Linked DNA regions of Homo sapiens. The protein of the gene in region 2 interacts with the protein of the main gene of each other region in a pairwise test. Each region holds a gene or a part of one and is shown on either strand. Other genes may lie near its edges.

Evidence for each region.
Region 1: the proteins of ADGRA3 (region 2) and ADRA1A interact in a two-hybrid assay, tested with the Homo sapiens proteins (one large-scale study listed by BioGRID and IntAct).

The regions. Positions count from the first base shown.
Region 1 is NC_000008.11:26,857,189-26,861,012, forward strand, and holds part of ADRA1A (alpha-1A adrenergic receptor), read right to left. Parts: intron 2,018-3,824; exon of another isoform or gene 1,844-2,017; intron 1,595-1,843; exon of another isoform or gene 1,505-1,594; intron 1,248-1,504; exon of another isoform or gene 1,166-1,247; intron 1-1,165. UniProt on the Homo sapiens protein: This alpha-adrenergic receptor mediates its action by association with G proteins that activate a phosphatidylinositol-calcium second messenger system. Its effect is mediated by G(q) and G(11) proteins.
Region 2 is NC_000004.12:22,439,432-22,443,255, reverse strand, and holds part of ADGRA3 (adhesion G protein-coupled receptor A3 precursor), read left to right. Parts: intron 1-120; exon of another isoform or gene 121-148; coding exon of another isoform or gene 149-176; intron 177-392; coding exon 393-606; intron 607-3,824. UniProt on the Homo sapiens protein: Orphan receptor that may have a role in planar cell polarity pathway.

The DNA.
Region 1 (3,824 bases), on a different chromosome or scaffold from region 2:
GGTGGTTTAGAAGGGAACAGAGGCCACCAAGACTCACAGCCAGCTTCAATTGCCAGGCAAGCTGGGTGCTGACGTACTTTTGACCATAGAATCATGAGACATAGATGGCTGCTGCTTTAAGCCACTACCTTTTGGGATGGTCTGTGGTGTAGTAAGAGTAACTGAAACGCTGGCTTCTTATCTTAAAATAAATTCTAGCCAGGTGTGGTGACTCATGCCTCTAATCTCAATGTTTTGGGAGGCTAAAGAAAAAGGATTGCTTGAGGTCAGGAGCTCAAGACCAGCCTGGACAACACAGCAAGATCCCATTTCTATAAAAATAAAATATAAAAATTAGCCAGGCATGGTGGTGCATGCCTGTAGTCCCAGCTACTCAGAAGGCTGAGGTGGGAGAATCACTTGAGTTCGAGGCCGCAGTGAGCTATGATTACCACTGAACTCCAGTCTGGGTGAAAGAATGAGATCCTGTCATTAAATAAATAAATAAAATAAAATAAATCCTAATGGCACTAGTTTTTCTTCACACCATTATCTCTAAGAGGTGAACCTTTTCCATGAGAACTAGGGAACTGCTCCCTTTGTACCTGCAGTGAAGCAACCCTCAACCCCTGGTTATCTTGGGCATCCGCAGAGGGTTTGGGATTATCATATATCATTGTATGTACTTGTCCTTTTTCCTTGTCATTTTTCATATACCTTTGCTAGGTATCTAATTGTTCAGATGTTCTGCTCCATTAGGGCAGGGATTTATTTGTCTTTATCTCCAGTGATTCTATAGCTTCCTGGCAAACAGTATATGTTCAATGAAACTGCTGAATGAATGAATGAATCATTCTCTGCCTCATTGCCTCCACCTGATAAATCCACTGCCAGCTGTGCCCTCCTCAAACATCCAATCTTAAAACACATTTTTCTGCTCTATCAATGTGCTGCCTCCTGTTCTTTTATAAACATAATCCTCAAATATTCTATGTCTATGTAAGCCACATCTCAGCCCAATGCTGCCTCCTTTGATTCAGTGGCAACAGCAATCAATGGCTTAGGTCCTATAATAACGCTGGGTTTTGTGTTTAAATCAGATAACATATCCAGAATTCAGACACGTAACTATGTTTTCAGTGATTGTTGCCTTTTCATCTTCTTTCCAATGCTTTCTATTTCTTAGAATGCCAAGGACATCCACCCCTCATGGCAACATCTGCATGTTGACATACATCAGTAATGGTCTGTGAATCATTTGAATTCTGGTAAGATGAACATTTATTACCATTTACTCTGAGTTAGGCACTATGCTGGGCAGCTGACCTATATAACATCCCCTGTTATATGAAAAAGAAAGCCTAGGTTTAAATCTCAGGCCAACAGTTTCTCCATTCAGCAGCACACTGCCTCTGGAACTAGTGGGCTCTAGACAATGAGATGAAATCAACAAAGATGATTCATAGGCTTTAGATGCTGGAGCTTCCTGAGAAGCAGAGTTCTTATCCTTCCTTCTCTTTCGTAGGTTGAAGGCTGACACCGTCATAGTCTCTCTACTCATCTCCATGGCCAAAATTTGCTTTTGAAAGCATTTGCTCCAAAGTATAAATGACTGTTAACAACTGCACATGGCACCCCCCTCCCTTGAAGGCATTCTGAATTTCAACCAAACATTTAGGATGCAAAAATGGAACAAGATTAGCAAGATTTAGACTTGGAAGCAGGCAAGTCAGATTCCTCCCAACAGTCATGCTATTCAATGCAGCAAGCAACCCAGCCTTAGTGGAAAGAAGCTTGGGAAAAGGGAACGTGAGACTTCTCACAATATACAGGAAGGACCTTTGCAGTCAAATAGCCTACTCACCTGATTTTCCTGGGTCAGTCCCTATTAAACATGGGTGTTTCACTTCTCAGCTGTGGATAGCACACTCATCCCTGCCCTGGTTTCAGTTTTTAATCTCTTTCCTCTCCCGCAGCCTAGTGCAGACCGACAGCCCTTTTCTCCAAAACAGCACGTCATATTTAAGAATGTATGTCCCTTGAATATAATAATATGATAGTATATTTATTCTTCTGCTCACATTTTGCATGAAAAACATACTTAAGACAGTTAATAAAAAAACATATAACATCTCGTTGACGACCCAGCAGAAGTAGTGCCATCTTCTTTAAGTCTCTGCTCTGTCAATGGTCATGCATGTAGAAGCTTCTCAGTGACCTCTCGGCACAATGAACTGCTATATTCCTTAGCACACTGTAATAATATCATTCTGAGCACCATCCTGAGCACCATGTAATAATATCACTCTGAGCACCTATGTCATAGACTTGCAATAATTGTTGACAATTTGTCTCCTTAACTAGACTGTGAGGCCCTTGAGGGCACTGTGTTTTATTCATCTTTTTTATTCTGTGTAGCTGAGAGCCTGGTGCTTATTACATAGCCAGTACATTCTTGGAGGAAATCATCTCTTACTCAATTGGTGTCAGGAAGAAATTGAGAGCCACAGACTGGCAGGTTCAGGGATCCTTTGCACTACTGAGCAGCTACTCAGACCCTGTGAACTGTATGTTCCCTACTTCCCTCCTGTCATATCATTTTTCTTTTTTTTTTTTTTTTAGACAGAATCTCGCTCTGTCACCCAGGCTGGAGTGCAGTGGTGTGACTCAGCTCACTGCAACCTCTGTCTCCCGGGTTCAAGCGATTCTCCAGCCTCAGCCTACCAGGTAGCTGGTATTACAGGCGTGCACCACCATGCCCAGCTAATTTTTGTGTTTTTAGTAAAGACAGGGTTTCACCATGTTGGCCAGGCTGGTCTCGAACTCCTGACCTCAAGTGATCCGCCTGCTCAGCCTCCCAAAGTGCTGGGATTAGAGGCATGAGCCACCGCGCCTGGCACCTCACTAGGATTTAAAAGAAGCCCAGTGATTCCGAGGGCTCCTGTCTACCACCACTTCTCTCCACCACAACATCTTCTCCTCCACACTGCTGACTCCCTGGGAGAGCAAATCCAAGAGCGGGCTATGACTAGTCAGAGCATCCACCTCCCCTAGATGACTCCAGGACCCAGGCCATTGTTTCTCATCTCTATGCATAGCTCAGCCACCACTGCAAGCTCCAAACTCTCAGGCCACCCATCGTCACCTGGGCTCCTTCTACAACCTGGCTGTGGATGCTCCCTAACCTGACCGAGTCTGTGTCTCTTCACACACACACTCTCTGGGACTCACAGTAGGTCCTCAGCATTGCCTCCTGTATCCCTCAGCTGCTTAGCTCTTAGAGAAAAACACACAACCCTCCTTCCCGCTGTACTTTAATGTTATGACCGTAAATCTCAGATAGGCCTTCAGGACTTCCCAGTGACTCTACCAAACTTCCATAAAATGTTTACTGTCCCACTCTCAAAGATGAATCTTTCACACCTTCTCTGAGGCTAAAACTGCCATCGTTCCCCATTCCTGACTCTCTCTTAGCTGATGACCTTGCTTCATATTTCACTGAGGACATAAACATATCCTAAAGAGATCACTATCTCTCTCCCTCTGTCTCTACTTGCCTCAGGGCTCACACACTTTGCTCTCCTTGTCACTTCCCAATGCTCCCCTTGGGCACTGAATCCCGTTGCCTCTTTTGCCTATCCCATCAGTGCCTCTCTCTATCCCATCGTTCCCATCAGAATATAAATATCATGTCATATCCCCACCTCCCACCATTGAAAGCTCTCTCTATACCCCTCCAGCTACACCGCATCTCCTAGCTCCAGTGTATAGCAAAACCTTTCAGAAGAGTTGTCTATTTTCCCTGTTCCCACTTTTTTTATCCTTTGTTCTTTCTAGAAAGTACA
Region 2 (3,824 bases):
CAAAAACTCGTGTTGTAATCAAAGGTATTGCAGTCTCCAAAGTGTATTTTAAAGTTGTAAATATCAACATTTACTTATCACTGATGCCATTTTCTAGAGCACAGCTTGTTCTTTTAGTTCATTTCTGTAATCATCTGATACTCTTAGGATGCCACTGAAGAGGAATAACTCTAAATGTCAGAACTGGTTATGAAATTGTTTCTTTTTAATTTTGTTTTAATCTGTTATCACTAAACTCAGTAGCAGCCTGGTTGATACTAGCAGTAGCATGCTGATTATTGAGGAATATTTGTTGTTCTGTTTTTATTATTTTACCTAGAATTTCTGTAACTTTTAATTATGGTGTTTGGAAATTATATTTGTTTACTGAATCTTTGTTTGATTGTCTCTAGACCCTCCGCTTGAATTGCCGTCTTTCTACATGACTCCATCTCATCGCCAAGTTGTGTTTGAAGGAGACAGCCTTCCTTTCCAGTGCATGGCTTCATATATTGATCAGGACATGCAAGTGTTGTGGTATCAGGATGGGAGAATAGTTGAAACCGATGAATCGCAAGGTATTTTTGTTGAAAAGAACATGATTCACAACTGCTCCTTGATTGCAAGGTAAACTTTTTTTTTTTTTTTGAATGAAGAATTGTGCCTGTGTATTTTATTTATCCTTTTGGAGGTGTAATGTTTAGTGGAATTTGAATTAATATTTCATCTTCTTGTATTTAAAAATGCAAACATCTGGCATTTCCTTTTCCTGGTTCTTATTCATCTTCTAAAATTAAATAGCCATCTTTTCATCCAGTTTTTAAAGAAAAGACTTAATTTCAAAGAAACTTTAGAAATTGAAGACTTTTTTAAAGTTTTTGGAGGAAAAATGTAAACTTTTAGTGCTAAACCTAATTTCCAACTATTTCCTGCTGCTAAGCTTACATTTTCTCTTTTAGTAATCACCTGATATTGACTCTAGTCAAAATATTGACTGATACAATATTTTAAGGTACTTATCTTCTCCACCTACTAGTATAAAAGAATATAACATCTGAACTATCAACCTCATAATTGGTGTGAATACCAAAATAATTAAAAGTAAAAATACTTTATAAAGTATAATAGACTAAGAATATATATGATATTATCACTTACCAGATATTTTACTTTGGTAAAATTTTTACCTTTAGACATTGAGTTTTCCACTCCCTTTCTTCTTTCTTTCCACCTACCTAGAACTTGGCTTATATTTTTATTTCAGTAGAGCTGCAGTTTTCAGACTCTCTGCCAGGTCCTCCTAGGGTAACATCACAGCAAACTCACAGGGGTGCTATGAAAGATTACTGAAAAACTAAAGGTTCTGAGTTGACATTCAAATCTCAGGGGTTCTCTGAGTTGAGATTCAAGACTTATGCAGTTGGCTATTTTATAATTTTTCTTGAGATTTCATGTCTACTAGAAGCATATTTTCATTTATATCTTCCAACATTTAGAGTAGATGCTTTAAATCCTTTCCTGCTAATTCCAACATGTGGGCAATCTTGTGGTTATTGCTACTGGCTGCTTTTCTTTTAAATATGGTTCATATTTTCTTCTTTTTAAAAAAGTATTGTTTATAGGTCTGACAGTTTTGGATTATAGACTGGACGTTATGAATGATTTGCTGTGGAGGAGAAGCTGGCTAGGTACAGTCTATGAACCAAATCTGGCCCACGGAGCCCATAAACTAAGAATGTTATTTATATTTTTAAATGGTTACATTTCAGATGGTTACATAATTCCCTGCATAATATTCTTAATATTGCTTCGTAGCCAGCAAAGCCTAAAATATGTACTGTCTGGCCATTGAAGAAAAAGTCTGCCGACCTCTGACTCTGGATTCTGTTATATTCTCCTAAAGTGAGCTAACTTTTGTTTGGTCAGGCAGTTAGCTTGGCTGAACTAACTCCTAGCTCTGTCCCCTCTGGTAGGCAGAAGCTAAAGTCTTGGTTTCTGCTCTCTACCTGCAAGTGTAGTTCAGGATCAGTAAGAGATCTTGGTGCATTTTATACATAGAAGTTTGGGCTTCCAGCCTGACTTCTTTCTACCTCTGTCTTCTGATTTTTTAAGCCAATAAGATTGTGAGTTTCTATTTGAGTGAGGCCTACCCTTGGGCAAAAGCCATTAAAAAAAAATCTAGTTACTTCCCAGTGCCAAAAACCCTTGTTTCTCATATCAACTCCTGTTCAGTTATTGCCTGCTTTTGATCAATCTTCATATGTTCAAATGATTGTCATTTTATAATTTGTCAGGGGCATATAATTGTTAGCTGTGGGAAGGGTGATTTAATATGAGCTACTCAGTGATTGCTAGAAGCAGAATTCCCTTATTAGGAGATACGATTAATCGTTCGAAATGATATATTCATTGTTACACTAGTTTTACTGTAGCGATAATTTCACATGCCTATACATATGTCAGAATTCATCACATTGTACACTAAGCAGTTTATTGTATAAACAGACAATAATTGATGTATAATTCAATAGTAAAGTTTTAAAAGTAGAACCATTTTCTATGTAGAAGAGCTTTGATTAATTTAGAACTCTAAATTATTTGACTATAAAATAAGTAGATTTACTGTATAAATCTATTTCTGCAAGTCATGCTTAAATTTAAATTATGTTTAGCAATGCAAAAAAAGTTAATTCTAAGGATAACAAGTTAACCTAACATTTTTTTTGGTAGGGACATGTGACTAAAGTGAAAATCTTTCATGTGAAGCCTGAGACAGTTCTTTACCTAGATTTTGCCCCAGAATAATAAAAGAAAGAAATATGTGGTTATTGCATTGGTTAATCTGAGATTCCTATTGATTTTTCATTGATCTCCCCATGTCTTTGATTCTTCATCAGTAAGAAACAGCATTTTTCTTAGGAGTTGAAATTGAAGCTACTTCTTTCTTTTTAAATCTCCAAATCTGCTGCCTTGAGGATTCCTGGAAATGTTATTCCAGTGATTGGTTTTAGATATTAAAAGTATTGCTAAAAGTTATCCAGGAAACATTTGCAGATTTGGAGATTGAAGGGGAAAAAAGTAGTAAGAAAACTAGAAACACTCCATTATAGTGTTTGGGATGCTGGACTTTGGACAGTTACTGTGGTACAAAGCAAGTGCTACGTGTAAAAGTCATTGTAGAACAAGAAATGAGCATCATTGTCTGATCCGAATCTGAGGTTAGATTAATTTTAGAGTGTCTAGCAGGCACACATATCTCATTAAGAAGTAGTTGTTATTTAAGAATACAATAAAAATTTTATTTCAAATTTATGTGTGTTACTTTTTTCAAATGGCTACTAAAGTATTTGAATATAGATAGACATTTGGGGGATTTAATTTAGTAATAGAAACCACCATCGGTATTTTTTTGAGCTGGGGTGGGGCACCATGACAAAGTTACTATGTCAGTGAAGTAAGACAGTGTTTGGGAACTTCTGGATTAAGGAATGATTTTCATTGACGAAATATACTTCTTCCTAGTTCAGTAAAGCCTTATAAAGTAGAATGTTGGACAAAGTTAAATTTAATGTCAAACTCTTTTTTGTGTCACTCTATTTTAAAAATATTAATTACAGTATGTTTATTTTTCTAACTTAGTAAAGACAACATTTTCTTTGATGATTCATAATATAAAAGTGTCTTGAGCCTTTATTAGAACATTTGCTGTAGCCGTCAATGATTTAGGAGATCGGACAAATGTGTATTTACTTTAAGACATAATTTTGTAAGTTAATTAAAATGATACATACTTTCTGTCTAATTATTTCTTATCATTTGTGTCTACATAACAGCAACGCATACTG